Regions from separate parts of the Homo sapiens genome. Here region 2 is linked to region 1. Evidence: fine-mapped expression QTL. A gene starts in region 1. The other region holds a variant in brackets. All regions are shown on one strand. Distances are between the middles of the regions.

Region 1 (15,243 bases):
CAGCTAAGAAATAAAAGACAGAACAAAGCCATTTTGCAGATTTCCTGAATCCTCGGAAAGGTTTTGTCATAACCATAACCAAGACATAAACTGTCAGAACCATGTCAGGGCTATGTCTTCGTTATCAGACTTTTTTGTTTTTTTTTTTTTGGCAAGTGCTTGATTATAGCATCTAAGTATTAGAAGTACTGGCCTTTGGTGGAGAACCAAGACAGACACATTCCTGCCTGCATGATGCTAGGGTAGAGCAGAAGACACAGACATCGTGTGTAACCTCAATATAGGGTGATGAAAACTTTTGTGAAAGGAAAAATCAATGTGGCAAACTTCATGTTATCTTATTTTAAGAAATTGCCACGGCCACCCCGATTTTCAGTAATCACCACCCTGATCAGTCAGCAGCCAGCGACATCAAGACAAGACCCTTCACCACCAAAAAAAGTACAACTCTCTGACGGCTCAGATGATTCTTAGTATTTTTTTTAGCAATAAAGTATTGTTAAATTAAGGTCTGTACTTTTTTAGACATAATGCTATTATATACTTTATAGACTATGATGTAGTATAAACGTAACTTTTATATGTGCTAGGAAACCAAAAAGTTTGTGTGACTTGCTTTCTTGTGATACTTGGTTTATTGCCATGGTCTGGAATTGAATCTTCATTATCTCCAGAGTCTGCCTGTAACTGGTTTTCTGCTCACTCTTAGAGGCCATGACCTCCTCTTTCTTACTAAAACTCTCCTCCTCCTCTCTGCTGTTCCTCTGTGGTCCAGCTTGTTATGGTCTGATGTTGGTTTCCTCCTAAAATTCATACATTGGAACCTAATGCCCAATGTGATCGTATTAAGAGGTGGGGCCTTTTAGGCAGTGATGCATGAGGCCCTGCTCTCATGCATGGGATTTGTGCCCTTATAAAGGAAGTTAAATGGAGCTGCCTTGTCCCTTCTGCCATGGAGATACAACAACAAGTTTCCGGCTACGAATCAAAGAGTGAGCCCTTGCCAGACACCGAATCTTCCAGTGCCTTCATCTTGGACTTCCCAGCTGCCAGAACTGTTATTTCTGTTACTTATAAATTACCCAGTCTAAGGTATTTTGTTAGAGCAGACTAAATGGACTAAGCCACAGCTTAAATAATACTTTCCTCTAGGGAACCTTCTCTCATCACCCCAGTGAGAACCAAACTCTCTCTGTAGAGGTCCTGAACATCTTCTGTATCTTTAAGCAAAGCTTTCTGAATACGGAGGACCTACTGTGTGCCAGGCACTGTTGCTAGCACTGTAGCTACCTGTAAAGATAGAGCAGTCTCTTCCAGCACAGGGCTTTCAATCTACTAGCAAGAGATGTGACACTATATCCCACATCATTCGTACCACTTTCCCCTGTGGAAGCTTAAGTATTTGTCTCGTCTTCCTGACTAGTTACGAGATATTTTACCAAAGGGACTCACAGTTCCTGGTATACTGTCCTGTGCATAGTAATCCCTTAATAAGTATTGATTAACCCATATAAGGCAGGATCTTGGTTAACAAATCCATTGTGATTGGAGATGAAAAGTAAACACTATTCTTAAAATAAGGTGCAGGTCTAAGATCAATCGCTCTAAATTGGTCATTTTAATAGCTGTCTCCATAGTATATGTCCTGTATCTTAGTCCATTCAGGCTGCCATAACAAAAAATACCATAGTCCAACTGGCTTAAACAAACATAAATTTATTTCTCACAGTTCTGGAGGCTGGGAAGTCCAAGATCAAGTTTCGAGCAGGTTTGGTTCAGCTTCCCGAACCGTCTTCTTGCTATGTCCTCACATGGCAGAAAGGAAGATGAAGCTCTTTTATAAGGGCACTAACCCCATTCACAAAGGCTCCATCCTCGACCAGATCATCTACTTATGGCTCCGCCTCCTAACACCATCACATTGGAGGTGAGGATTTCAACATACGGATTTGCTGGGTGGGTGTGAGGGGGCACAAACAATGACGCTAAAGCAACCTGTTATTCCCCTTATGGCAAGGAATAGAAGTATTTGATTTAGAACTGTGAGAATAGAAGTAGTTGATTTAGAACTGTGAGATGCTAAAATGTTGTAACATAAAGGGTAATGATGGTTTAGGATGACAATTACAACCAGTCAAACAAACATGTTTCCAGTGTGAAAAATAACTTTGCTTACTAAGGAATTACCTCTGTCTTGAGAGTTCTGCTTCAATGTGGAGTTGGTATAATAGGATGGAGCATCACCATCAAAGGCAGCAAGGGATTGGAAGGGTTACAGGCTCAAAATTTGGAGCATCTGTTAACTAGGCTATAAAATGTCAACAAACAAACATAAAAATAACAATGAAATATCTTGCACACATGCTTTTAAGCTGATTATTTTACTTGTTTTTTTCCTTACGTGAGGAATCTCCTCCTACTTGGTTATCTTTTCTGCTAGACTTGCCTTTTTATAAAGCTGTCTTTCTTGTTGAGCTTCATATATTTTTTCCATATTCAAAACTTTGAGAGTTCATCAATACGTTCAAACTGATAGAGAATGTATATTTTAAACCTGTAAGTCATTTTCTGAGTTAAAGATACCTATTTGATGAACTGATCATGACACACCTAAATCTTTTTGGGGGGAGGACAGAATGAAATTTGTAAATAAACAACACTGTTAAGATTGTTTTATATCCAATTCAAATGCTGACAGAAAATCATTCAAACCATAAAATCTGCCGGGCATGGTGGTTCACACCTGTAATCCCGGCACTTTGGGGGGCAGAGGCAGGCGGATCACCTGAGGTCGGGAGTTTGAGACCAGCCTGACCAACATAGATAAACCTGTATGTACTAAAAATACAAAATTAGCTGGGCATGGTGGCACATGCCTGTAATCCCAGTTACTCAGGAGGCTGAGGCAGGAGAATTGCTTTGAACCTGGGAGGTGGAGTTGCAGTGAGCCGAGATTGTGCCATTGCACTCCAGCCTGGGGCAACAAGAGCGAAACTCTGTCTCAAAAAACAAACAAACAAACATAAAATCTGGACATAAGTAGGAATGATGATATGTTTAACAGGAAAGGGACTTCTTTGTTTTACTCTGTACATCCAGAGTCTAGCAAAGAACCCAGTATCTGGTGGACATTCAAGCATTTGTTGAATGAATGAATTTCTGTTCATCAAATTTAGTACATATGTCAGGTATAAAGAGTTACAGAAATGAGGAATTAAGAGATGCTTAAGTAAATGATACCATATACAAAATTTTAAATCACATAAATATTATATTAATAAGAACATAGGTTAAGGGTTTTCATTTTAAATGACTTTTTGTTACTAAAATAATACCCACAATTCATATTTATTATTTATCTATTTTGTCACCATTGTATGTAGATAATAAAATAATATTTACTGTTCATCAAAATGAAAGTTGAAAGGTAGTTTGATAAGCTTTACGTTTATAAAAATAGATGTCTGCTGAAAATACCAATCCCAGTCTAAGACTTGAATTGGAAGGTTTTTCTCTAAAGTTACATTTTTCAGAATACTGGTGCTATGTGATAACTCATTTAGCAAAGCTTCTTGTAAGCTGTTCTAGACAGTTGATAGAAGTATTTTGAATGACCAGGATAATAGATTTTATCATACTGACTTTCAACTGTTTAATTTTGGTCTAAATGAACTGTTGGACTAGTATATTGCTATTTTCACAAAATGCATAATCATGACTGCCAATTTTTCCATGACTAACTATACCCAGCCAGATGTTTCTTAGGTTCTGCTGAGTCACTTTTTTCCTTTTCCTCCAGAACTCTGTGTTCCTACTAACTCCTAATTCCCTCTGGCCTTTTCTCATACTTTGCCTTTTACCTGAATTTTGGGTAATGGTTTCATTGCTCTTTTTACCATTTCATATGCATAAAATAAGTTTCTCTGAATTATTCTCAATTTTACTTGCTATCATGTATCTTAACCTATCTCTTTCCTGGGAAATAAACATTTTGAGGAATTTGTTTTAAAAAGTTATTCAGCCTCTGTATGCAAGGAAAACTATCAACAACCTCATCGCATGATGAAGTATATTCTGAATCATCGTAGAATCCAGTCTTTTAAAAAAATGCTAGCTAGTTTCCAAACTTCTGTATCTGGTTTCTGCTTCTCAGCTATCTCTCCTCCTGGTGAGATTTTCTGGTGGTGCAGAGATAGCTAATCACTGGTTAGACTGCTAGAACTTGCGGTCGAGTGGTGCCTTTCCAGTCATGATGGATTTGTATTTTCTTACCAATCTCAGCATCATGAAACACTCACTGCCTGGCCCCTAGAAAGAGTTTTCAGTGACAGATTTCATCTCTTGAACACCAGTGAAATATTTGGTTGCACTCATAGTTTTATAAAGTATTCATTGACTCAAAAGGTATTAAGTGCCTATTATGTGCTGATAATTGTGGAAAGGGTTGAGAGAGGAAAAAAACAGACAAAAAACCCAATCCAACAGGAAAGATTAACAGGTAAACACACAAGTGAGATTAAGTGAAGTTCTCAATGAAAATGAGTCGGTAAAATTGGCAGCAAGTACTATAAAAGTACAGTGGAAGGGCTGAAACATCTCCGCAGTTATTTTCAGACTTCTCATCAACCACATTTCATCACTGGTTATGCAAAGGGAATTCAAACTCTTCTACGTGTCTCCTTGTCTGTCTATTTCAAGGACTAACCATCAGGATATTTCTGCCTAAGAACAATGAGTTCCCCAAACTGCAAAGTATTTTCTATACTTTGTGTGCAGTTTTTGTGCAGTTTTGCACTTTTCTGCACTTTGTGTACATGCAGAACATTTTTGAGTGCTTATGGATGGATTAATTAATCATTCATTTGATGGATTTACCACCCAGTCTTACTTTCCTTCATTGGGAGTAGGAGAAAGCCTGGTGATGGAAGGAAAGCCCCCGGGGTCAGAAGACCAGATCTGCACTGTGTGGTTAGGCAAGCCAGTTTACTCAGATCAGCTGGCCACAGGGTTCTCATCCATAAAAGAATGTCTGTGAGGTTCTCCCATCCTCTGACATCCTAAAATCCAATGAGAAAGGGACTGGTCAAGCCAGAGAGATTATTGTTATAGTTTAGTAACTTTTTGAACTTCTCAGAGCCTCCAAGATAGATCATGGAGGAGGGAACTGTTAACTGCTAAGCTTGACTTTACTGACAGGAGTAAAAAAAATTGTGTTAAGGTTAGGGAATAATTTTAACAGTCAATTTGTTCTTGTGAACAAATTTCAACAGTGAAATTTTAGATATGTACTTTTTAATGGTGCCAAGCAGCAGTTATTATAGATCAACTGCTGTTTGGCACCATTAAAAAGTACACTTCGCACCGTCAAAAAGTAGATCTGGCCACAATTAGATCAGTCAGGGAAAAACACTTCGCAATGAAATATTATTTACCACGTTTTCTTCCTCCCTCTTCTTGAAAATAGTAATGATTTTAGCATTTTTAAATCTTGAAGAATGTCATTCCGTACTGACTAAAAAGCCTGTGCAAACACCCAACATCTTCTCTTTCCTGTCTATTTTAATGGATATACAAAATAAATATTCATCTAATTTATCAATATTTAAGGCACATTGTGTATCACAATCCAATGGTAAACATTTTTCTTATCAAATGGCTGATCTTGACATTGTTTAAAGCCCTATATGATTTCAGAAAAGTCAGTGACTCCAAGTGGAATTGCAACAATTTCTTGGGTCTTGTAACAAACCTGAAGTGTAACTATTTCTCTTCAGCTACCTTCAATCCCAGAGAGCAAAGAATCACATCCCAGGTGGAGCTGAAGATCTCTTAGGGAAAATGACTCAGGCTAGAGCCTGCATAAAAAGAGGATTGCATGGCTTAGTTTTGCAAACATAAATTTTGTGGGTTTCAGAGCTGGCAGAGAGCTCAAAGAGGAAATCATCAAGGGCAACTTTCTGCTTCGAGGAAGGAAAGTCTACAAGGGCTAAACCTGGATGTGCTATTTCAGTTCAGGCAAAGGAGGAAAATTAAAATTTTGCACAGTTTTATTCTGTTAAAACAAGTGGTTCAGTAAGCTAAACGAGATATGTATATAGTATGCATTAAAATGCAAGACTGACTTCCCTGGGAAAACGTGGGAAAGAAGGAGAGAGGAAACAAACAATTCTTACACTAAGAATTCTCCAGTCGTGTCTTGCAGGCAATATAGAGTAATAATAATAAAAATGACAGGAGATACTTTGACAGGATGGCTTAAAATGCCACTCAATAGATGAAGAGTTGTTCTCATGCTTGGCAAGTTTACAGCAAAGCCCAGAAGGAGAAGCCAGAAAATAATTTAGAAAAACCAAAGCTTAAAACTAGTGGCACACAACTCTGGTTACATTTTTCATTTTCATTTTTGGTTCCTCTGCATTTCGGTGGAACTCAGTCCCACAGATGTCTTCTTCAATGTGGGAACCATCCTTTCTGGAACCACAGAGCTGCAGATGTCACGCTGGAATTCTCCCAGAGGCAAACTGCCAGATGTGAGGCTGCTCTTCCTCAGTCACTATCTCTGGTCGTACCGGGCGATGCCTGAGCCAACTGACCCTCAGACCTGTGAGCCGAGCCGGTCACACCGTGGCTGACACCGGCATTCCCACCGCCTTTCTCCTGTGCGACCCGCTAAGGGCCCCGCGAGGTGGGCAGGCCAGGTATTCTTGACCTTCGTGGGGTAGAAGAAGCCACCGTGGCTGGGAGAGGGCCCTGCTCACAGCCACACGTTTACTTCGCTGCAGGTCCCGAGCTTCTGCCCCAGGTGGGCAAAGCATCCGGGAAATGCCCTCCGCTGCCCGAGGGGAGCCCAGAGCCCGTGCTTTCTATTAAATGTTGTAAATGCCGCCTCTCCCACTTTATCACCAAATGGAAGGGAAGAATTCTTCCAAGGCGCCCTCCCTTTCCTGCCATAGACCTGCAACCCACCTAAGCTGCACGTCGGAGTCGCGGGCCTGGGTGAATCCGGGGGCCTTGGGGGACCCGGGCAACTAGACCCGCCTGCGTCCTCCAGGGCAGCTCCGCGCTCGGTGGCGCGGTTGAATCACTGGGGTGAGTCATCCCTTGCAGGGTCCCGGAGTTTCCTACCGGGAGGAGGCGGGGCAGGGGTGTGGACTCGCCGGGGGCCGCCCACCGCGACGGCAAGTGACCCGGGCCGGGGGCGGGGAGTCGGGAGGAGCGGCGGGGGCGGGCGCCGGGGGCGGGCAGAGGCGCGGGAGAGCGCGCCGCCGGCCCTTTATAGCGCGCGGGGCACCGGCTCCCCAAGACTGCGAGCTCCCCGCACCCCCTCGCACTCCCTCTGGCCGGCCCAGGGCGCCTTCAGCCCAACCTCCCCAGCCCCACGGGCGCCACGGAACCCGCTCGATCTCGCCGCCAACTGGTAGACATGGAGACCCCTGCCTGGCCCCGGGTCCCGCGCCCCGAGACCGCCGTCGCTCGGACGCTCCTGCTCGGCTGGGTCTTCGCCCAGGTGGCCGGCGCTTCAGGTGAGTGGCACCAGCCCCTGGAAGCCCGGGGCGCGCCACACGCAGGAGGGAGGCGACAGTCCTGGCTGGCAGCGGGCTCGCCCTGGTTCCCCGGGGCGCCCATGTTGTCCCCCGCGCCTACGGGACTCGGCTGCGCTCACCCAGCCCGGCTTGAATGAACCGAGTCCGTCGGGCGCCGGCGGGAGTTGCAGGGAGGGAGTTGGCGCCCCAGACCCCGCTGCCCCTTCCGCTGGAGAGTTTTGCTCGGGGTGTCCGAGTAATTGGACTGTTGTTGCATAAGCGGACTTTTAGCTCCCGCTTTAACTCTGGGGAAAGGGCTTCCCAGTGAGTTGCGACCTTCAATATGATAGGACTTGTGCCTGCGTCTGCACGTGTTGGCGTGCAGAGGTTTGGATATTATCTTTCATTATATGTGCATCTTCCCTTAATAAAGAGCGTCCCTGGTCTTTTCCTGGCCATCTTTGTTCTAGGTTTGGGTAGAGGCAATCCAAAAGGGCTGGATTGCTGCTTAGATTGGAGCAGGTACAACGTTGTGCATGCCCCGTATTTCTACGAGGTGTTCGGGACGGCGTAGAGACTGGGACCTGCTGCGTACTGGCAAAGCAGACCTTCATAAGAAATAATCCTGATCCAATACAGCCGACGGTGTGACAGGCCACACGTCCCCGTGGGTCTCTGTGGAAGTTTCAGTGTAGCGACATTTCAGATAAAAGTGGAAAAAGTGAAGTTTGGCTTTTTTCATTTGTATGCAGTCCTAACTCTTGTCACACGTGTGGGATTTATCTTTTTCCATAACTTACTGAAAACCCTTCCTGGCGGGCTGAACCTGACTCTTCCTGAGCTGAGTCCTGGACTGGCACACTGATGGCTCTGGGCTCTTCCCGGTCAAGTTATAACAAGGCTTTGCCCATGAATAATTTCAAACGAAAATGTCAAGATCCTTGCCGGTGTCCTGGGATTACAAGGTGAATCTTGTCATGAAGAAATTCTAGGTCTAGAAAAAATTTGAAGATTCTTTTTCTCTTGATAATTCACTAATGAAGCTTTTGTGGTTGAAAAATAAAAAGTGAGGTTTATGGTGATGTCAGGTGGGAAGGTGTTTTATACATCAATACATTCGAGTGCTCTGAAGTGCATGTAATAATAGCTGTTTCTCTGTTGTTTAAAGGCACTACAAATACTGTGGCAGCATATAATTTAACTTGGAAATCAACTAATTTCAAGACAATTTTGGAGTGGGAACCCAAACCCGTCAATCAAGTCTACACTGTTCAAATAAGGTAAGCTGGGTACAGAAAAAGAAAATTAAGGTCTTTGATGTTTCTACTGTCCTATGCTGAACAAGAATGTCTTTAAAGCTGATTACTGGATGAAATTATTTAACAGATGACGAAGAAGAAGGGATTCTTGGCAATTCGCTGGCCGGTGTCATACTCTATTAGGCCTGCAACATTTCCAGACCTTAAACTGATAGAACATTTTAATTGTTTTAATTGTTTTTGGAAATGATGGGAGAGTTCCTAAGTGGAGTATAAACTGTGGAGAGATGAACCATCTTGAGTAGGCACTGAAGTGTGCTTTGGGTCATGATAGATTAATTAATCTCATCTAAACATTGATGTCTTTTTCTGTTGCTGTCTAGACTGTGAACAATGTCTAACACCTTAGGGAAGAGGTGGGGAGGAATCCCAATGTATACATTGCCCTTAAGCAGTGTTTGATTCATTCATCTTTGGACTCCATGAATCGAAATCTGGTAGAATACATGATCTTAGTGGAGGAGGCCAAATGCGTGACTCACTGAGCCTGGCAGAGCAGAAATACTCTGCTGTCTGCACCCTCTGGGTCTGGTGTGGCTCTGCTTCTTGGTGCCTCAACTCTGACTGGCAGCTGTCCCCAGGAGGCGATAATTCAGCATGTTCAATCTAAAGGTTATGACTTCCTTGATGGTTTTCACCATATTCTTGGCAAGTTTTTGGTTTTTGAAATGTTCTAGGAGGCTTGGTAGAGATCTTATGAAATAGAGAATAGCTGCTGTGGAAATTATTTTAATGCTAATTACATAAAAGTACAAAAGTAGCACTAGCTAAAACAAAAGGTATTTTGCTGTTCTGTTTTGTTTTAGCTTGTGCCAGGCCTTTTACAGCATTAGGAATGCAACTTCTAGATAACGATGCATCTTTTAAGTGAATGTTCTTGTTTTTCAAAATGAACTTCATGACAGTAGTTGCCAAACCAGCAAGGAGAACTTGCATGCATACGTGCATGCATGTGTGGATATGTATGGGGGTGGGGGGAGAGAAAGATGAAGGAATTTCATAACATGAAATAATGATTACAGTTCTGGTCAAACTTGTCAATTCAGATTTCACCAATTGAGAATTAGTAAGTAATTTCTCTGATACAGGCCTGAAGTTTACCTTAGTAAACACTTTACTTCCATATGGTAAAAATTAGATTTTGGGAGGAATGCTTACCTCCTAAATATATTCAATCTAATATTTGAGGGACACATGGGAATATATTTATGATTCATCTGCTTTTTAAACATAAGCCTTTGTTAACTGTAAGTTCTTGAACTTTATAAGGCTGCTGTTATTTAAATGAGCACAGCTCCTGATCTGCAAACAGCAGAGCGCAGGGCTACAGCTTGGGGGATGCCAGCCGACTCAGGGTGGTCCTATGGACTGAACAATCTCTTGCTGCTGTACTGGAGGGCCTGGGAGCTTTTCCATCAGCCTCGGCCTGAGGTGTGCACTCTTCTCCTGCCCACCCCAGGAATAAATGAGATTCCTGGTTAAAAAGGACCAGAGCAGTCATTTTACAGTTGAGGAAACTGTTGCTCTGAGAAGTGAGGGATTTATTCATGACTACACTGATGGTGAGTGCCCATGTCAGGTCTGGAACCAAAGTCTACCCAGTATCCACACACCACCATCCCTCAGGTGGCTCTGCCACAGTCTGATGGGAGGCTCCAAAGCGGGAGGAAGAAGGAAAGTCTTGCCCACTGCATCTCCTCAGTTGGCCTTCCTCTCTGCCTGTTTTCCCTCCCTACAGTTAGCATCTTAAGCAGCTGCCCCTCTTCCCTCCCGACTGCTCTCACTACTGCAGCCTGGCTCCAGCCGCAGGACACTACTGCTGTGCAGAAGCCCCTACTTGGAACTCCAACTGCATTTTTCACCTTTGCTAACAGTTTTCAGTGGTGGTTGGGAAATGTTATTGGCTTAAGCCTTAGCACAAACCGTCACCGGTGATATTCATTCCATGGAAATGTTCTGAATTCTAAAGCTGAATTTACAAAGCTTCTGGAAAACAACCTGCAACCAAATTAGTGACTGAATTTTTTAGTTAACTCAAAATTCCAAATCAGAGGGTTTTGCAATGCCTGGAGGAACCTTGGAGGCTTTTAAAGTGTTAATGCTATTAATGGCATTCAGAGGGATTTTCTACAGAATTGTCCCTTCATTACCTGTTTATACAGTTTTACTACTTACCAGGGTACTGTATAAATCCTTGTGCTAAATTTTGCTATAGAGTATGTGGTCCCTGCTGTGAGCTGGGAGGAACCAAATACTGTATCTCTATGTTACATAGAAAGCCCTAGGAGACTTTCTCCTGTTATCTGAACAACTATTTGCTGTACTGATAAAAAGGAAACAGCATAGTCTCATTCACTTTTTGAAATGGAAATGATAAAATAAAACACATTTTGGTCATTCGGGAACAAAATACCCTCTCTACTTTTATCACATAAAATTAAATAAATAGAAACCAAAATATTTCAGTATCAATCTTAGTTTGTGCACTTTAGGATAAAGAATGTGTTTACCCAAATCCTTTTGGCCTGGTTACTTAGTTCAGATTTTGAAAGAAAATATATTTGTGGCTTTTATGTGTGAATTTAGACAATGGAATCCATGTGGTGCCTCGTTTTCCCTGAGATTATGTATTAATTCAACCTGTAAATGCAAACCATCTAATAGTCAGCGAGACCCTATAGCCCTGCTGCTTAATGGGGGCACACAAGGGCATGCAGCCCTCGTACCAGGCAGACTGTGTTCATATTAACAGCATCGTGGAGAAACTCATGCTGGGGGACAGGGGAGGGAGATGTAAATGCTCAGCAGGGAGATCTGGAGATTCCTGGAGCAGGTGGAGTTGGGACCTGGCCTTGAACGATGGGTCTGGCTCTGGCAGTCAGTAATGCCAAAGGGAAGAGCAGCATAACTGTCACTTTCCATGGGACAGAAGTGTGTGAATCAAGTTGCAGTGACGCTTCACCTATTTATTATTTTGGTCATTTAGAAGAATTTCATTGTCAGTAGAAGTCCTTTAAATCATTTCCCCTTCAGTGACGTCTCACAAAAGAAAGATCTGTCTTTAGCTTTTTAGTCTCAGACTTTATTAGACAGATACTACCTGTACTCTTATTCTGTAATCTTTGTTGGGATGGATTCACATCTTGCAAAGGAAGGGAGGCATGTAGTATAATGGGGCAAACAGACCCAGCTCTGCCACTCGTTAGATATGTGACCTTCTGCAAGTTGCTTAGTGCCTGTGAGCTTCAGTGTCCTCATGGATAAGAAAGATCCAACACCTTCTTGGAAGGATTATATCAAATGAAGTAACATGAGTAAAGGGTCCAGCAGAATACCTGGCATATAGTGGAGTCAATGAATGATTAATAATATTATTAATAGTGGTCATGAGAGAATATATGTATAACATGTTATTATGTAGACTCACTATATAGACTCTATTCTACATAGAATATAGAACATTATATAACAAACAACTATAATAAGTAGACTATAGTAAACAACCTCACTTTGTCTCAGTTGCCTCATCTTGATGGAAAACTGCTCTTTCTCTCCTGTTACCCTGACAGAGAGCGTCTACATTCTAAAAGAAAGATATTTAACAAAATGGTTGAGTACAGATCCAAGAGTCAAATAGCTGTCTGGTTCAAAGTCCAGCTGTGTGATTTTGAGCTAGTCACCCAATCTCACTTTGTCTCAGTAGCCTTATTTGTAAAAACAAGGCAAATTACAGAGCCATCCCCTGGGTTGCTATGAGGACTCAAACATGCATCCCAAGTGCTCGGTGTTGCTAGGTATGATGGCTCACACCTGTACATTCAGCACTTTGGGAGGCCGAAGCAGAAGGATCAGCCTGGGCAACATAGCAGGACCCCATCTCTACAAAACAATGTTTAAAAAAAAGCAAAGTGCTCAGCACAGTGACTGCATCATTAGGATTGATTGTAGGGCTCCTGATGTTAGCACAGAACACCACAGCCAGGAAGCAGTCTATCTTGTTGGGTGCAAATTGTAACATTCCATTTATGTTTCTTCCTTCTTTTCTTTCTTTAGCACTAAGTCAGGAGATTGGAAAAGCAAATGCTTTTACACAACAGACACAGAGTGTGACCTCACCGACGAGATTGTGAAGGATGTGAAGCAGACGTACTTGGCACGGGTCTTCTCCTACCCGGCAGGGAATGTGGAGAGCACCGGTTCTGCTGGGGAGCCTCTGTATGAGAACTCCCCAGAGTTCACACCTTACCTGGAGAGTAAGTGGCTTGGGCTGTAATACCGTTCATTCTTGTTAGAAACGTCTGAACATTCTCGTGATCTTGTGCCTTTAGGGGCTACAAAATTAAAAATATTTATTCTTTTTTTCTCAGAAACTGGTATGTATCACAGCCCTCTTCACACATTCCAGATGTGGTAGGAGGTTCACAGAATGTGAACTTTGGAGCTGATGACAGTGTCATCAAGTAACTTTCTCCCCCAGTCTGTCCCCAGACCCTGTTACTGTCCTCAGTAACCGGCTGAATGTGTGTTGGGAGAGGGCGGGCCAGGGAAGCGGGTAGGGATAGGAAATCCACCAAGGCCGGGGTTTTAGCTTTTCCCTATATATATATCATGTATCCTGATTTTTCTGTCCCGTTATCACACTAAAAATCCCAGTTGAGGATTTTTCCCAAACGGTCATAAATCAATGAGGAAAGTCCATGGTTTCCCTCTGAGCCCATAATTAGCCTAATTATGCTGACCTTTTCTAATCAGTTGGCCATGATTTGAGTTCCGTGATGTGCCAGCACCTGCCCAGCCATCTGCCTGTCACCCTCGTTCTGGTTTTGGAAAGGTGGAATACTTTCCTCCTCAGCCTTTGCCCCTGTAAGCTGGCCCTAGGAGCCAGTAAAAGAATGAAGAGAATTCCTGTCAAGTAGGAGATTTATTCTTTTGCCGCAACTGTGGCTCTGAGCTAGGCAATTTAGATAAATGCATGTAGCACATTGAGTAGAGTGAAATTAGCTTCTCTTGTAAGGCCAGCTGGTTAGAATGAAGGTGTTGTGTGAGTGTTAGGCCCAGCGAGAGAGAACAGTTTCTCAAGGTAGGAATGGTGAAAAGAAGGGGTGGACGGACAACCAACCAACCATCCTCCTCTGGTATCTACTTTGAGGGTTGAAATAGGGGGCCTGACCCCAGGTGAATGTGGCTGCCTTCCCAGAGCCCCCATTTGCAAGACCCTCCAGACCCCCAGGTGCTTCTGCTTGTGTCTTTTGTGGCACCAGGCAAGAATGTAGCAGCGTCAGCAGCCCCTCTGGTGACTGTGGCATGGTTGACATTCATTTCCCCCCTAATTAATGGCATCCTCATGATTCTCTTTTATATTAATAGTTCTTGAGTTTTTTTGTAAGCTACTTCAAATCCTTTGTTGGTGCAAGATAGAAGATATTTTATGTGTTTGTTTTGCATGTGCACACACATATTTGGCCTGTGAATTGATGTTTGTTTTCCTGTCATTTAACCAAAGCACATGAGATAATTGAGCCATTGCAGAGACCCCGTGGTTAAATCCGGCTTCTCGAGGTACCAAGGACATTTCCTGGGCTTTCTCACAGCCCTACATATTTTTGAACCTAAAATATCGTAGTTTATGCTACCACCCTGTTCAGTATAGTAGCCACTAGCCACATGTGGCTGTTGACCACTTGAAATATGGCTAATGCTCTAAGTATAAAGTACACACTGGAATTTAAGAAGTGTAGAATATCTCAAAACTTTTTTATATTGATTACACATTAAAATGATTATATTCCAGATATATGCAGTTGACTCAAGCAATGCATGGCTGAGAGGCACCGACTCCCTGTGCAGTTGAAAATCCGAGTATAACTTGACTCCCCAAAAACTTAACTACTAATAGCCTACCTATCGGTTGACTGTTGACTGCAGCCTTACCAATAAGATAAACAGTCAATTAACACACATTTTTCATGTTGCGTGTATTATATACTGTATTCTTACAATAAAGTAAGCTAGAGGAAAGAAAATGTTATTAAGAAAATTATAAGGAAAAGAGGCTGGGCATGGTGGCTCGTGCCTGTAATCTCAGAACTTTGGGATGCTAAGGCGGGTGGATCACTTGAGGTCAGGAGTTCAAGACCAGCCTGGCCAACATGGTGAAACCCCATCTCTACTAAAAATACAAAAATTAGCCAGGCGTGGTTGTGGGTGCCTGTAATCCCAGCTACTTGGGAGGCTGAGGCAGGAGAATCACTTCAACCCAGGTGGAGGAGGTTGCAGTGAACTGAGATTGCGCCACTGCACTCCGGCCTGGGTGACAGAGCGAGACTCTGTCTAAAAAAGAAAGGGAAAGAAAGAAAAAAAAGAAAAGAAAAGAAAAGAAAGAAGGAAGGAAGAGAAAGAAT
Region 2 (15,243 bases), 240 kb before region 1:
GCCCTCCCAGGTGAGATAATCAGAAGACAGCAAAGGTTTTGAAGGAGAGGCATGCAACAGAAACTTCTGTGCTTTCAAAATAAATTACAGGTTGAGGAAGGCAAGTGGAAAGCTTTTGTCCAAATTGATTTTCATATTAGCAAGGATGATTTATGCCTGGGAAAAATTAAAGCTCATGAAATCAGTATGAATTTAAGTCTACAAACTGAAGTATGCAAGAATTAGCTCTGTTTTAAAAAAATGACTTTATTGGGGTTTAATTTATTAGGTTGTTGCAAAAGTAATTGTGGTTTTGTCATTAAAAGTAATGGCAATATATGTGTATTCCGTACAACTCATCCATTGTAACTGCATAGTTGATTTTTAGTAAATTTCCAGATTTGCTACCATAACTACAATCCAGTTTTAGACCACTTCTATCACCTCCAGAAGGTTTTCTCTGTGTCTATTTGCAGTCAATCCTGCTTCCCACCCTCAGCCTCAGGCAACCACTGATCTGTTTCCTGTCTTCATGGTTTTGCCTTTTCTAGAAGTTTCATGTAACTGGAGTCAAGCAATATATTATATTTTGTGCCTGGCATTTTTCACTTAATAATATTTTGAGTTTTACCCATGCTGTTGCACATATTAGTAGTTTGTTCCTTTCCATTGTTTAGTAGTTTTCCATTATAGATAAGCAACAATATGCTTATTCATTCATTAGTTGATGGACATTTAAATTGTTTCTAGTTTTGGGTTATTGTGAATCCTGCAGCTATGAACATGTGCATATGAGTTTTTCTGTGAACATATGTTTTCATTTCTGATGACTGGACACCTAGAAGCGAAATTGCTGGGTCATGCAGTAAGTGTGTATTTAACATGTTGAGAAACTGCAAAAATGTTTCCCAATGTTGCTGTACCATTTTATTTTCCCACCAACAATCTATGACTTAGTAAGGTCAGTCTTTTCTATTATGGTCATTCTAGTGGATGTGGTATTAATTTGCATTTCCCTAATGACTACTAATGTTGGAAATCCTTTCGTATGCTTATTAGTCATATGTGTTTCCTTTTTTGATAAAATGTCTATTTACATTATTGCCCATTTTAAAAACTGAGTTGTCTTTTTTTTTTTTTCTTTTTTTGAGACAGAGTCTCACTCTGTTGCCCAGGCTGGAGTGCAGTGGTGGGGCAATTTCGGCTCACCACAACCTCCACCTCCCAGGTTAAAGCAATTCTCATGTTTCAGCCTCCCAAGTAGCTGGGACTACAGGTGCCTGCCACCACACCTGGCTAATTTTTATATTTTTAGTAGAGACAGGGTTTCACCATATTGGCCAGGCTGGTCTCAAACTCCTGACCTCAGGTAATCCACCCACCTCGGCCTCCTAAAATGCTGACATTTACAGGCATGAGCCACTGTGCCTGACCAGAGTTGTCTTTTTAAATTGATAAATAGATGTATCTATTTTGGGGGTATATGAGATATTTGGATATCCTTCACCATTATCATTTATCTTTTCTTGACGCTACGAACATTCAGTTTATTCTCTTCTAGCTATTTTGAAATGTACAATAGATGATTGCTAGCTATATTCACCCTGCTGTTCTATCGAACATTAAGTCTTATTTCTTCTATCTAACTCTGTATTTGTACCCATTAACCAAGCTCTCTTCATTCCTCCCTCCCCTCCATCCTTTCCAGACTCTGGTAACCACCAGTCTACTCTTTGTCTTTGTGAGTGCCACCTTTTTAGCTACCACATATGAGTGAGAATATGTGATATTTGCCTTTCTATGTGTGGCTTATTTCTCTTAACATAATGATCTCCAGTTCCATCCATGTTGCTGTAGATGACAGGATTTCATTCTTTTTCAATGGCCAAATAATATTCCATTGTGTATATACACCACATTTGATCCATAGACCTATTGATGGGCACTTAGGTTGATTCCGTATCTCGGCTGTTTTGAATAGTGCTGCAATAAACATGGGAGTGCAGATATCTCTTTGATACATTCATTTCCTTTCTTTTGGATATGTAGTCAGTAGTGGGATTTCTAGATCACATGGTAGTTCTATTTTTAGTTTTTTGAGGCACCTCCATACTGTTTTCCATAGTGGCTGCACTAATTTACATTCCCACCAGCAGTGTATGAGGGTTCCTTCCCCTTTCTCTACATCCTCACTAGCATCTTTTTAATAAATGCCATTTTAACTGGGATGAGATGATATCTCATTGTAGTTTTGATTTGCATTTCTCTGATAATTAGTGATGGTGAGCATTTTTTCATATACCTGTTTGCCACTTGTATGCCATCTTTTGAGAAATGTCTATTAGATCTTTTGCTTGTTTCAAAATTTGATTTTTTAAAAACAATTGCATTGCATTCCTTATGTATTCTAGTTATTCACCCTTTATCAGACGGATAGTTCGCAAGTATTTTCTCCTATTCGTGGGTTGTCTCTTCACTTTGTTGATTGTTTCTTTTGCTGTGCAAAAAGGTTTTTAGCTTGATGTCATCCCATTTGTCTATTTTTGCTTTTATTGCCTGTGCTTTTCAGGTCTTACACAAAATAATCTGCCCAGACCAATATCCTGAAGCATTTCCCTAATGTTTTCTTCTAGTAGTTTTGTAGTTTCACGTCTTAGATTTAAATCTTTAATCCCTTTTGACTTTATTTTTGTATATAGGAGAGATAGGAGTCTAATTTCATTCTTCATGTTTGTCTTATATTATTAAGTTGTAAGAGTTCTGCATACAAGTCTTTTATCAGAAATGTGATTTGCAAATATTTTCTCCCTGATGGTGGCTTCTGTTTTAATTTTCTTAGTGATGTCTTTTGAAAAGTAAACACTTAATTTTGATAAATTCCAGTGTAATTTTTTTTCTTTTATGGATCTTGCTTTGTGTCACATCTAACAAGTGTTTGCTTAACCCAAAGTCACAAAGATTCTCTGTTTTTTTTTTCTAGAAGTTTTATAGACTTAGGACTTACATTTTAACCTATGACCTATTTTGAGTTATACATGGTAAGAGATGAGGGTCTAAGATTTTTTTTGTTTTTTTTGTATATGAATATATAATTGTTCCAGCACCATTTATTGAAAAGACTCTCTTTTCCCTCATTGAATTGCTTTGTCACCTTTGTCAAAATCAATTGACTGTAAGTATGAAGATTTATTTCTGGACTCTATTCTGTCTGTTTGATCAATTATGTCTGTCCATACACAAATAGCATACTGTCTTGATTACTATAGATTTATAGTAAATTTTGTTTAAGTCCTCCAACTTTGTTCTTTTTGTTCAGTTTTTTTTTTTTTGGTTGTTCGCAGTCCTTTGAATTTTCACATAAATTTTACAATCAGTTTGTTAATTTCTACAAAAGCAGGGTCTCTGGATCATATGGTAAGAGTATGTTTAGTTTGGTAAGAAACTGTCAAACTGACTTCCAAAGTGGTTATACTATTTTGCAATCTTAACAGAAGTGAATGAGACTATTTGGGTAATAGTCTTTTATCAGATACATCTGTTTCAAATATTTTCTCCAAGTCTGTGGCTTGTGTTTTAATTCTCCTAAAGGGTCTTTTGAGTTTTTAATTTTGATGAAGTCCAGCCTATTAATTTTTTTCATGGGTTATGACTTTGCTGTCATATCTAAAAAGTAATTGCCAAACCCAAGATTATCTAGATTTTCTCCTATGTTATTTTCTAGGAGTTTTATAGTTTCATGCTTTAAATTCAGGTTTATGAGCTGTTTTGAGTTAATTTTTGTGTTTAGATTTTTATATTTGGCACATGGATGTCCATTTATTCCAGCACTATCATTGAAAAGATCATCTTTTTTCCAGTTTATTGCCTTTGCACCTTTGTAAAAAATCAGTTGACAATATTAATGTGGGTTTACTTCTGGTCTTTGTATTCTATTCCATTTATCTGTCTATTCCTTCACTATGCCACATTGTCTTGACTACTATAGCTTTATAGTAAGTATTGAAGTCAGGTAGTATTAGTCGTCTGTCTTTTTTCTTCTCCTTCAATATTTTGTTGGTTATTCTGGGTCTTTTGCTTCTCCATGTAAACTTTACAGTTAATTTGTTGATATTCACAAGATAACTTGCTGGGATTTTGACTTGTATTGCATTGAATCTATAGGTCAAGCTGGGAAGAGCTGACATCTTCACAATATTGAGTCTTTCTATCAATACACATGAAATATCTATTTATTTAGTTCTTCTTTGATTTCTTTCATCAGAATTTTTTAGTTTCCTTCATATAGATATTGCACATTTAAAACAAAACTGATACCTAAGTATTTCATTTTTGGAAATGCTAATGTAGATAATATTGTGTTTTAAAGTTCAAATTTCACTTATTCATTGCTGGTATATAGAAAAGCAATTGGCTTTTATATGTTGACCTTGTATACTGCAAACTTGCTATAATTGCTGATTAATTCCAGGAATATTTTTGTTGATTGTTTTGGATTTTCTACATAGGCAATCATGGTTATCTGTGAACAAGCACGGATTTATTTATTCCTTCTTAGTCTTTATGCATTTTATTTCCTTAAAAAATCACATTATGTTAGGACTTCCAGTGCAATGTTGAAAAGGAGTGGTGAGAAGAGACATTCTTGCCTTTTACCTGAACTTAGTGGGAAAGCTTGTAGTTTCTCACCATTGGGTATTATATTGTAGATTTTTTTGTAGATATGCTTTATCAACTTGAGGAAGTTTTCCTCTATTTCTAGTTTGCTGAGTGTTTTCTTAATCATAAAGGAGTGTTGGAAGGCCCTTTTTGTTAGATTTATTTCCTACCATATGACACACGAATGTCTTACTAATTAGTATAATTGCTACTTTTTGCTCACTAGGTGGAATCAGCATTCATCAATGTAATAAACCAGTGGTCTTATGGAAAGATGATCAAGTCCCTGCAGACTATAATATAACATTTAGGTTTGAAGGGTTGATATACCCCAAGGTAAGGCAGTTAAGGTGTATTGCTGGCTTTGCCAACAGAAGGCAAATCAATTCTGGTAGTCTTTATTAATAGGTATTGAGAAAAAGGCATTTGTCAGACCAGTCGCTGCATACCAGTAATAGGGCATGTGTTAATTTGCTCAAGCAATGAAGCCTTTTCTGAAAGACCAGCTGAAATTCAAGTCACCACCTGATTAAGCTTACTATAATCCACTGCCATTCTCCAGTATCTATCTGTCTTCTGTACAGGCCAAATAGGCAAGTTGAATGAGGATGTGGTGGGAATCACCACGTGTGCATCCTTCCAACCTTTGATAGTGGCACCATTCTCTAGAATCCCTCCCATGAATGCAGTATTGCTTTCGGTTTACTGTTTTCCTAGGTAAAGACTATTCTAGTGGCTTACACTTGGTCTTTCTTATTGTAATGGCCCTCACTCCACAAGTCGGAGAACAAGCATGGGGATCCTGCCAGTTGCTGAATATGTCTATTCCAATTATTTACTCTGGAACTGGAGAAATGACCACTGAATGCGTTTGGAGACCCACTGGACTCACTGTGACTTGAGCTAAAACTACACTAATTACCTGAGTTTCAGAAGTTCCCACTCTAGGACGGCATGGTAGCTCATGCCTGTAATCCCAGCACTTTGGGAGGGTGAAGGGAGTGAATTTCTCGAGCCCAGGAGTTCAAGACCAGCCTGGGCAACATGGTGAAACCGGGTCTCTACTAAAAATACAAAAAAATTAGCCGGATGTAGTGGCATGAGCCTGTAGTCCCAACTACTCTGGAGGCTGAGGTGGGAAAATTACCTCAGCCAGGGGACGTCGAGGCTGCAGTGAGCCAAAATCATGCCACTGCACTCCAGCCTTGGCAACCAGAGTGAGACCATATGTCTAAATAAATAAATAAATAAAATTTATATTCTGACTGATAGACCACAGTGATGGTTTGGGTCTCCTAAGATTAGTGTCACTAATCCAGTAAGTCAGTGTCCAATAATCACCTAAAAGTCTGATTATTTTGTTTTCCCTAATGCACAGTCACCCTGGCAGAAGGCCATAGGTCCTTTGGGGAGGGCTGAGAAAAAGATTAATGGCATAAACTTTTGGCAGTGTAATGGGTACTTCTTCAAGGAGCTCAAACCTCCCCTTCTTTCAAGGCATTTGGGATCTGTAAACTGGCTCAAGTCTAGGAATTGATTGCAGAAACTGCGACTCTGTTTTTATGATTTAAATTAGACTAAGTTCGTATTGCCTGGAACTCTTCTGCTTAAACAGTGCAAATAAGAATGTAGTAGACCAGGTGTTTTAGCCTGTTCTTGCATTGCTATAAAGGAATACCTGAGACTGGGTAATTTATAAGAAAAGAGGTTTAATTGACTCACAGTTCTGCAGGTTGTACAGGAAGCATGGCAGCATCTGCTACTGGGGAGGCCTCAGGGAGCTTTTACTCATATGGCAGAAGGCAAAGCGGGAGCAGGCACTTAACATGGCAAAGGCAGGAGCAAGAGATATGAGGAGGTGACACACAGTTTTAAATGACCAGATCTCACAAGAACTTACTATTGTGAGGACAATACCATGGAGATGACACTAAACCATTCATGAGAAATCCTCCCGCCATGATCCAGTCACCTCCTACCATGCCCCACCTCCAACATTGGGGATTATATTTTGACATGAGATTTGGGTTCATCCAAACCATATTACCAGGCCAGCCAATGGCCTGTTTCTGTCTCCAATGGACAGAAACTATCTGTTGGCACAGGTGGCTGGGTGGTAATTCTCTCTTCCCCTCAGGGCCAAGCTCAGTTCCAGGAATCCATAACCACTTAGCGGCTCCTCTCTAAAACCTTGCCACCTTCTTTCCAGTTTCTAGGAATCTCCATTTCCTACCTTGCTGCTCCTTAAAGACATTCTTCCTGCCTTGGCCTCTGACTTCCGTTGCTCTAGAATTGATGTCTGCTGTCTGCTTTCCACTTTGTCAGAATCCCCTTACAAGAAATCACAAAACTTTGTTTCCTGATTGAAATAAGAGGTCAGGGAAAAGACAGGGAGTATACACACAGTTGGAAATTCCAGCCTAGGCTGGGCGCGGTGGCTCACGCCTGTAATCCCAGCATTCTGGGAGGCCAACGCGGGCGAATCAAGAGGTCAGGAGATTGAGACCATCCTGGCTAACACAGTGAAACCCCGTCTCTACTAAAAAGTACAAAAAAATTAGCCGGGCGTGGTGGCAGGCTCCTGTAGTCCCAGCTACTCGAGAGGCTGAGGCAGGACAATGGCATGAACCCGGGAGGCGGAGCTTGTAGTGAGCTGAGATCACACCACCGCACTCCAGCCTGGGTAACTGAGCGAGACTCTGTCTCAAGAAAAAAAAAAAGAAAAAGAAAATTCCAGCCTATTACCCTGTTATAGTGATCAGATACCAAAGTTGCTGAAGACACAGAGAAAGACTTCCCTAGGGAACTTAAATGTTCTCTAAACATATAAGGCATGATAGATGTTCCCCATAACTGGATGATATTCCTCCTGTCCTATCCTCCTGCCCTAGCCACAGGAGTGAAGGCTTGCGTTTAGGAAGTATGTTATTACTGCAGCCTGTATGACTTACTTTCTGGTAATAAATCTTGTGTGTGAATTGTGGGGACGGCCAGCATCCAAAGTAAATAGCGACTGTTGTGGTGGAGGCTGGCTGGCCAGCCTGGCTGGCTGCGCTTCAGCTCCTTGGCTGCTCCTACAGGGATTGCTGCCGTGGAGCTGACTGTGGCTTCCCCAGGGCTCTGCTGAAAGGGCCTTCCAGCTCTGGGGAGGCTCTGCCCTCTTTTCTCCCTCAGCTAGGACCTTGGCAACTCTGCTCTTCCTCCTGGCAATCAGGCATCTGGAATGGCTGAAGGGTGAATTCCAAGCAGCAGAAAGAGTGCCAGAGTCCTGGGCACT[T/C]CCTTCTTTGGAATCTCTCTATCAGCCCAGCACACCCCAGGTTGTGTTTTCTGAGCAGAACAAGGTGATTCTCTGCAATGTACTAGAGGAGAGGAAGGACCAGGATGCACTGCATGCAGCTGTCTCAACTCACCTTGCTCCTTTCTTCCTCCATAACTTTGCTTTGGACATTTTCTCTGCCTGGAATGCCTTACCTTATTCTCTCTCTTTCTCCTGGTGAAATCCCTACTTATCCTCTAAGGCTGAATGAAAACACTGTCTCTTCTGGGAAGCCACCACCCCTCTCCCTCAAACCCTTTTCTCCCACAACTTTTTGTTCCTAGCCCTGTTGTAATACTGACCATATTGTATTATAGTGAGTAGTCTGCCTGAGTGAGTGCAATAACTTTTTTTTTTTTCTCTAACTCTTTGGCCCTAGGATCTAGGATGGTGCCTGGCACATATCAATGATAATGATGATTATAATAACAATTATTCATTATATGCTTAGCAGTTGCAAGGCACAGTGCTAAGAGCTCCGTAACATTTAATCTCCACCACAATTCTAAGGGTAGCTATTAGTGTTATCCTAGTTTCTGGATGAAGTGGTGGGTTTAGGGAGGTTCTGCAACTTGCTTAGGGTCCCATATCTTTTAAAGGGTGGAGCTAAGTTTTGAACCCAGGTTTGTGCAGCAAAAAGTCAGTGTTTTAACCTTTTTTGGTTAGGTTTTGACAGGTTTTTTGATAGGTTTTGATACCTATCACTGTTTTGATAGGTATTTTTTGAATGCTTGATTGAATGAATGATTCTAGAGGTGCCCAAGTACTCCCTCCATTCCCATCTGAGTGCAGCATCTAGGGCGGGGGCTGTTTTATTCCTCAGGCACTGGACTGTATCATGGTACCTTTGGCCCAGGCTCCTCACTTGATGGTGTCTTGCTTTTCCTTTTGGTGGGCAAGGAAGATCAAAAGGCTCTAATGATGGGATAAGCTCCTGATCTGCTTATAAATATACTGATCCTAATGTCAAGCCAGCATCCCTTTCATGGTCACAGCTCATGGTCTATCATCAAACTCTGTGACCGGTGGTATGAACAGGCTGGTTTGCATTTTCCCCAGAGCATTAATACCCATAATCTCTCCTTTGTCTGCCTTCCCTCTGTGTTTCTACAGTGTAGGGCTTGGCAGGGTTGGGGCCAGGGAATGTGTGGGGAGCTATGTGTGCTCCTTTCTCTCTTTCCCTATCACAGACAAGAGAGGGAAACTGGCATTATGCACTGATGTCACTGAAGGACAGAAACAAATTGCAAAAGTATATGCCTGCAAGGAAGGAAGCAAGTAGATGCCACTAATGCTATTTTTCTGTTTTTTCCTAGCACCTGGCATATAATTGATGCTCAATTAATATTTATTTATTGAAAAAAATTACACCACATTCACAAATGCCTTACATTTCTGTAGCACCTTATGAACTCTTTACAGCTCTGTGGTAGCTATTGTTTCTACTGATTCTTATATACATTTTAAGGAGGAGGATATTAAAGCTCAGAAGGGTTTGATGACTTGGTGAAGATCACCAAACTTATCAGAGGCAATGTCAAGGACAAAGCCAACATCTGTGACTTTGAATTCTGAAGGAATGAAGAATGTGCAATCTCAAAATATGCCACATTGGTATATTTATTATTTTGAGTTACAAACATTGAAGAAATTGTAGTTTCAGAAAGGGCCAGTTGTCCTGTCTCCCCCTGCATGCAGCAAGCCATAAAGCTTCCTCTTGGAGGGGGACCTCCATGTACCAGGGCAAGAAAATCGTCCTTATTACCAGAGACTGGGAAGTTAAGGCTGCAGTGGACCTAAATAAATATTACCGAAGTAACCCCTGTCGTCCACTAGTTTTATGTCCCCTCATATAGCTCCTATGACTCCCTTAAAATTTACTACCCCTAGCCAGATCCCCTTTTTCTTGTCATTTCTTCTCAAATTCATTGTTCTTTGTCTAAAAAGTATAAAGACATCTTGCTTTGGGCATTTCTTTGGATTTCACTCTCTTGTGAAGATCCCACGGGCACAGTAGTTGCATCTGACAGCACTGACTTATTCACACCCTGAGAATGACCCTATACGGCAGATGCACCTGCCAGCAATGACTTAAGAAATGAGGGTTGCCACATGGAGGTTGTCGGGGGGAGCGTGCTAAGTGAAGGTGCTATCTAAACTACATGCTTTTTTCAAGCAGTTACAGTTTCCTGTTCAGTCTTCCACCACTGGACTATTCCTGTATGTAATTTCTCCCTAATAAAACCCCGTGTCTCGTTTGCTGGCTCTGGGTCTCTTGTTTGGCCTCTCAGACATGGTGCCATTCCTATTGGAGTCAATAGGGATCTGGCATGACACCTACGTTCCTTAAAACCAATACAATTAGTATGCTTTTATCTTGTTAATCTGCCTGGTGTCCATTTGGTTTCTAGTTCTAGCCAAAAATACCACCTAAGAACTTAAGGGTGTTGGGGTTGCTCGCTGACTCTCCTACAATCCTGTGCTCATAAAACAAGGAAACAGAAATCTCAGATATTCAATACCTAAATGTTTATCTTAAAGCAAATTCTACTTATATGGTTTCATTCTTTGTTTGGTAACCTATCCCATTTCACTTTATTTTTTTGGATCTCTTTTCTCTCATTTTCTGTATTAAAACCATTCACAGTAACTTGTATAGCCCTTCATTTGGAAGAGAACGTGGACTTTTTCTTTTCCAAATCATTTTAAATCAACAGCTCCTCAGTGAGTGCCTCCTAAATTAAGATTAAGGCATGACCCCTGCCTTCATGGTGCTTACTTTACGTGGCTGTAGGGACAGACAGGAACCCCAGGGCATATGAGATTGCAGATACTCCCAACAGAGATTTTGATGAGCACATCAGAGCATCAGTGGCTTTCGAGCTAGTGTAAGGATGAGTAGAAATTATTTTTAGACACTCCTTAGGTAGAGATGGGGAAAATCATTTTAGTTTAAAAGAATAGCAGTGGCAAAGGTGGGGAGGCATGACCTGTTTAGGGCTGGATGAGTACTCCTGGGATGGGGTACAAGCTGGTATCATATTGTGGAGGCTCTTGGATGCCCTAAGATGTTGCATTTTTTTCAGTAGGCAGTAAGGAGCCATCAGTAGTTTGTAAGGAGGGCAATGTGATCTCAGCTACAGAGGAGAATGACCAATGAGCAGCCATATCAGTGACCTAGGAGAGGCTCAGGGATTCATCCCTTATCTCCCAATTCCCTACTGAGGGTGAGGCACTGTGCAGATGAGCGGCACAGAGCCAGGCCTGCAGGCACTGGCAATCAGGCGAGCAGGCCATGCATAGCTGTAAGGCACCATCATAAATGTCTCTACCTAGTTCAGCAAGTGCACAAAGAAAGTGGGGTATAGGGTCCCTGGGGAAGGTGGGCATCAGGAGAGCTTTCTAGTGGAGATGATGCTTGAGCTGAGATTATTTACAGGGCGAGGAAGATGTTGAAAGGGAGAGAGGAGGGAGAAGGCATTTGCAGGAACAAAGCATGGAGGCATCAGCAGCGTGACCAGTTAGCCGGACTTGCTGTGTGTGGGTGTGTGTGTGTGTGTGTGTGTGTGTGTTTAATACAATTGTTTTGCTTATTTAAGTAATATTTGTTTGCTGAAGAAAATGTGTCAAATATAGAAAAACTAAAAGAATAAATCTATAATCCCACTACTTGGAGATAATCATTTAAAAAATTAGGTGAATATCTTTCCATTTTTATGTGAGTGTGTATGTGTTTGAATAAGAATAAATGTGTGTGTGTATACATATATATAAATGTATCAATAAGTAGAACATATATGTATGTGTTAATACAGCTTCATCTTCTCTCTCTTTGTATTGAATGTCCTGCTGCATCAGCTATAGGGATAAAATAAGGTTACATTTCTTTAATATTCAAACAATACTGACTTGAACATCCACCAGCCCAGCCTGACAGGAAGTGTAGTCTTCCCTGGAGGTTCTCAAGTAATCTCTAAGAATGTGTAAGAAATTGCTACTTATTCCTCAACCTGTCCTAATAGTGGCTGCTTCCATCTGCCTACTGATGATATGTCTAAGATTTAAGTAGGAAAGGGAAATATGGGTAGATTAGTCTTTCCAGCTAGAGTGAAAACACCTCATGGGCCAGGAACCATGTCTTTCTTGTCCACTGCTGTACCCCCAGTGCTTCAGATAAATACCCACCACATAGTAGACATTCAATAATACACTAAATGAATGAATGGATTCAAACCTCCACTTATTCAGGCAATTAACATTTACTGAAGATTTTTGATGTGCTGAGTTCTGTGCTGGGGATTAGAAGTGTACATGCAAACAAAATAAAACTTTCATCTTTGATGGGCATGAAGATAAGCATTTAAAAAAACAAACAAACTCAGCTTCCATGGGAGTCAGTGAGATTCTTAGCATCTGAGGTATTCAAACAGACACCAAAGACTACTGACCAAGACTGTAGAAGGGATTCTTGCTTGGGAGAAATGCTGGACTTAAATGACCATTAATGACCCCTCCAAATGTAAATTCCTATGATTGAATGAATTTTAGCTAATTGTTCCTAACTTATTAGTCATAACCAAACAGTTCACAGAAGGACTCCAGAGTAAATACAATTACAAATGAAAAACAAATGTTCTGATGGGATCCAAATATTTGTTGATAACAAGTGAGATTTCTTGAGAAGCCTGCAGAATGTTGTTCTCAATAGGAGACATAATTTTTAAATAGTAGAAATTAGAGAAGTAATACATTTCAGAATGTGTTTAAACATATTTTCTTTAATTCAATCCATTTATTATATTCAAAACTCGTATTCACAAGCAAAAATAACTAAGAACTGATTAAGACAACTAAAACAAGCTTTTGATAGGTCTTTTTCGAGGAAGCCCAAAGGTCTCAAGTTTGATCGCTGTTTGGAAAATATGAGCGCAACACTTTAAGACAAAAATTTCCATATGTTGGTCTTATTAGAATTCAAAACTCATTCATCTGTTCCTTCATTCAAGAAATACATAGTGGGGAGATAAAAGAAAGACATAGTGAAAATCCACTAAGTGTAATATACTGTAGACTTTGCAATATGAATAATTCTAAAAGGAAAATGAGATCATCTATCATACATTTAAACAGTCTTTTAAAAAATTCATTTTATTACAAAGTAATAATCATCCATTAAATAAAAAACTTAAAAAATGGCAATAGTAAAAAGAATACCTATAATTATACCATTTAATAAATATCTACTATTTATGTTTTTGTGATTTCCTTTTAGGGTTTCTATGCATGTAATTTTTATATCATTGTAATACTGCTGTGGAAACTATTTTGAGCTTTAAAATCCTAATCATTGAAGAGGCTGGTGGAAATAGTTTAGTGGAACTGAAACCTGATTCTCTAGAGCTTTGATATATGTGCCTTGGTTTTCCTTCATGTACCTTAAGCATTACTCTTTTGGGTTGAAAATAAATCATATAGGTTTTGTTTAAACAACACCAAGCATATTTAAAAAATGAGAATTTGGTAAGAATAATGGCCAGATTAAAAATTAGATTACAGATTAGCAGCTGGATACCTAAATGATCAGAACATACAGTTGTGGCCATTAGCCTTACTAGCACACCTAGTCCATACTATCACTAAATAACTATTTGGCCCCTGTTTGTTTAATGACCAACTCCCCTGTTAGACTCTAAACACTGTCTAGTTCACAGCAATATCTCTAGTGCATGGTTTATTGCCTGCTGCAGGCTTGGTTCTTAGTAGACATAACTGGAGTAAGTGAATGAATGACTCATTTACTGGGAAGGGTAGTTTGGGGGTAGTTCATCAATCAATCCATCTATCCATCCATCCATCCATCCATCCATCCATCCATCCATCCACCCATCCATCCACACACCCACCCACTTACCCACCTACCCAACCATCCATCCATCCATCCATCCATCCATCCATCCATCCATCCATCTATCCATCCATCCATCCACTTCTTCATTCATCTATCACCAGATATCTTAGGGAATATTTGCCATGTGGTAAGCACTGTGCCTTGCACCAAAGGCACAGAGTAAAGCAGTGATGGCACTGCTCTGGATGGAAAAGCTCACTCTCTGGGTGGGGAAAGAGTCAGACCCTCCATTGAGGTCTTCAAATACCTCTTCTGCAGATCTCTTGCCTGGCATTTACAGTCCTAGAACTGTAAAAACTGGTCCTTTTATTAGGGCATTGTTTTTGTAAATCACAAATATGCTGCAGGGTGTGCTTTTCAGTCATTAACAACTTAGAGTGAGCTAGTTTCTCAGGTTTAGGAGGGGAGGGAGAGAAAGCAGGCCATATGGTTATGGAAAGGACACTCTCAAGTAATTGGTTTCTCCCTTCTCTATAGTAGGAGGCCCTGGGTCATGGGAAGGCAGCAATGTAGCAGAAACATGCCCAATTGGCTTGAGTCTGTCACCACCTAGCTGTGCCATGACAGGCAGCTTGGCCAACTCTGAGCCTCAGGCTCCTTACCTGCCTGGAAGGTGATGCAGAACAAATGCTGCTGTAGTCATGAAAGGGTCCTGTGAATCACATGACTACATGCTCTTCCCCTTGCCAAGGAAGGGGTGAGTTTTTCAGACCTGACAGCCATGCACACACCTGCTGCTCTGCAGATGGCCTCTTCTGTGCTGCTTTCTTTTTAGAGGAAGCCCTTCAAGCTTCTTGTATCAGGTGCCACACAGACATTAGTTGCATCTTCATTGTCCTCTCCTGTGAAGGCAGAACCTGGTGCTGAGTCCCCAGCATTTCCAGGTAGGAGGGAGGCTGTGCAGGAGAGAAGCCAGACCTGGGGAAAGAGTCAGGGCATGAACCAAACTCTCCTTTATTGGCACAAGCTCCCCTAGGCCAGCCTTCCTGGGGCTCCACAGCTCCAGGGTGCATCACGGAGCTGCACCCCAATGCCAGCTTGTCCTGGCCCTCGGGAGCACAAACCTCCTGGGAAGGGCCCTCAGAGGACTGCCAGGTTCTGTCCTATCCAGCAGGGCCTTCTTCCAGGCACATCTTTGTCACGTGAGCTTGAGGACAAGGAAACTCTTTCCCTGACCTGGAGGTGAGTGCATCAAAACCAGGGCTACATTTGGGGCATCCCCAATGTCAATCACATTCTCTTTGTAATTCTCACAGCACCTCATGGTGAGGTAGACTGGTGTGAAAGAGAAACATAAAGCAAAATGTCTATCTCCTCTCGGGTCTCTGAGAAGGAAACTCTCTTACCTCAGGGAAGCGGGAGGGAGAAAGGAGCGGTGACCTTC

The links.
Region 2: its variant is fine-mapped to the expression of F3 in lung (TOPMed, PIP 0.92).

The regions. Positions count from the first base shown.
Region 1 is chr1:94,533,817-94,549,059 of GRCh38, reverse strand. F3 (coagulation factor III, tissue factor) reads left to right here and starts at 7,301. Exons shown (of 6, transcript NM_001993.5): 1 at 7,301-7,523; 2 at 8,692-8,803; 3 at 12,896-13,095. The coding sequence starts at 7,424. MIR12133 (microRNA 12133) reads right to left here and starts at 5,358; the gene lies at 5,281-5,358. It overlaps LOC124904223 (a long non-coding RNA gene), which reads right to left and starts at 7,086. Exons shown (of 2, transcript XR_007066234.1): 1 at 2,188-7,086. RefSeq lists a silencer at 7,102-7,381.
Region 2 is chr1:94,776,114-94,791,356 of GRCh38, reverse strand. The region is part of intron 1 of SLC44A3-AS1 (SLC44A3 antisense RNA 1); the gene reads left to right. Among named protein-coding and RNA genes, the nearest start is that of SLC44A3-AS1, 36 kb to the left of the region's middle. RefSeq lists an enhancer at 7,433-8,195. The variant T/C (reference allele first, on the strand shown) is at 7,913.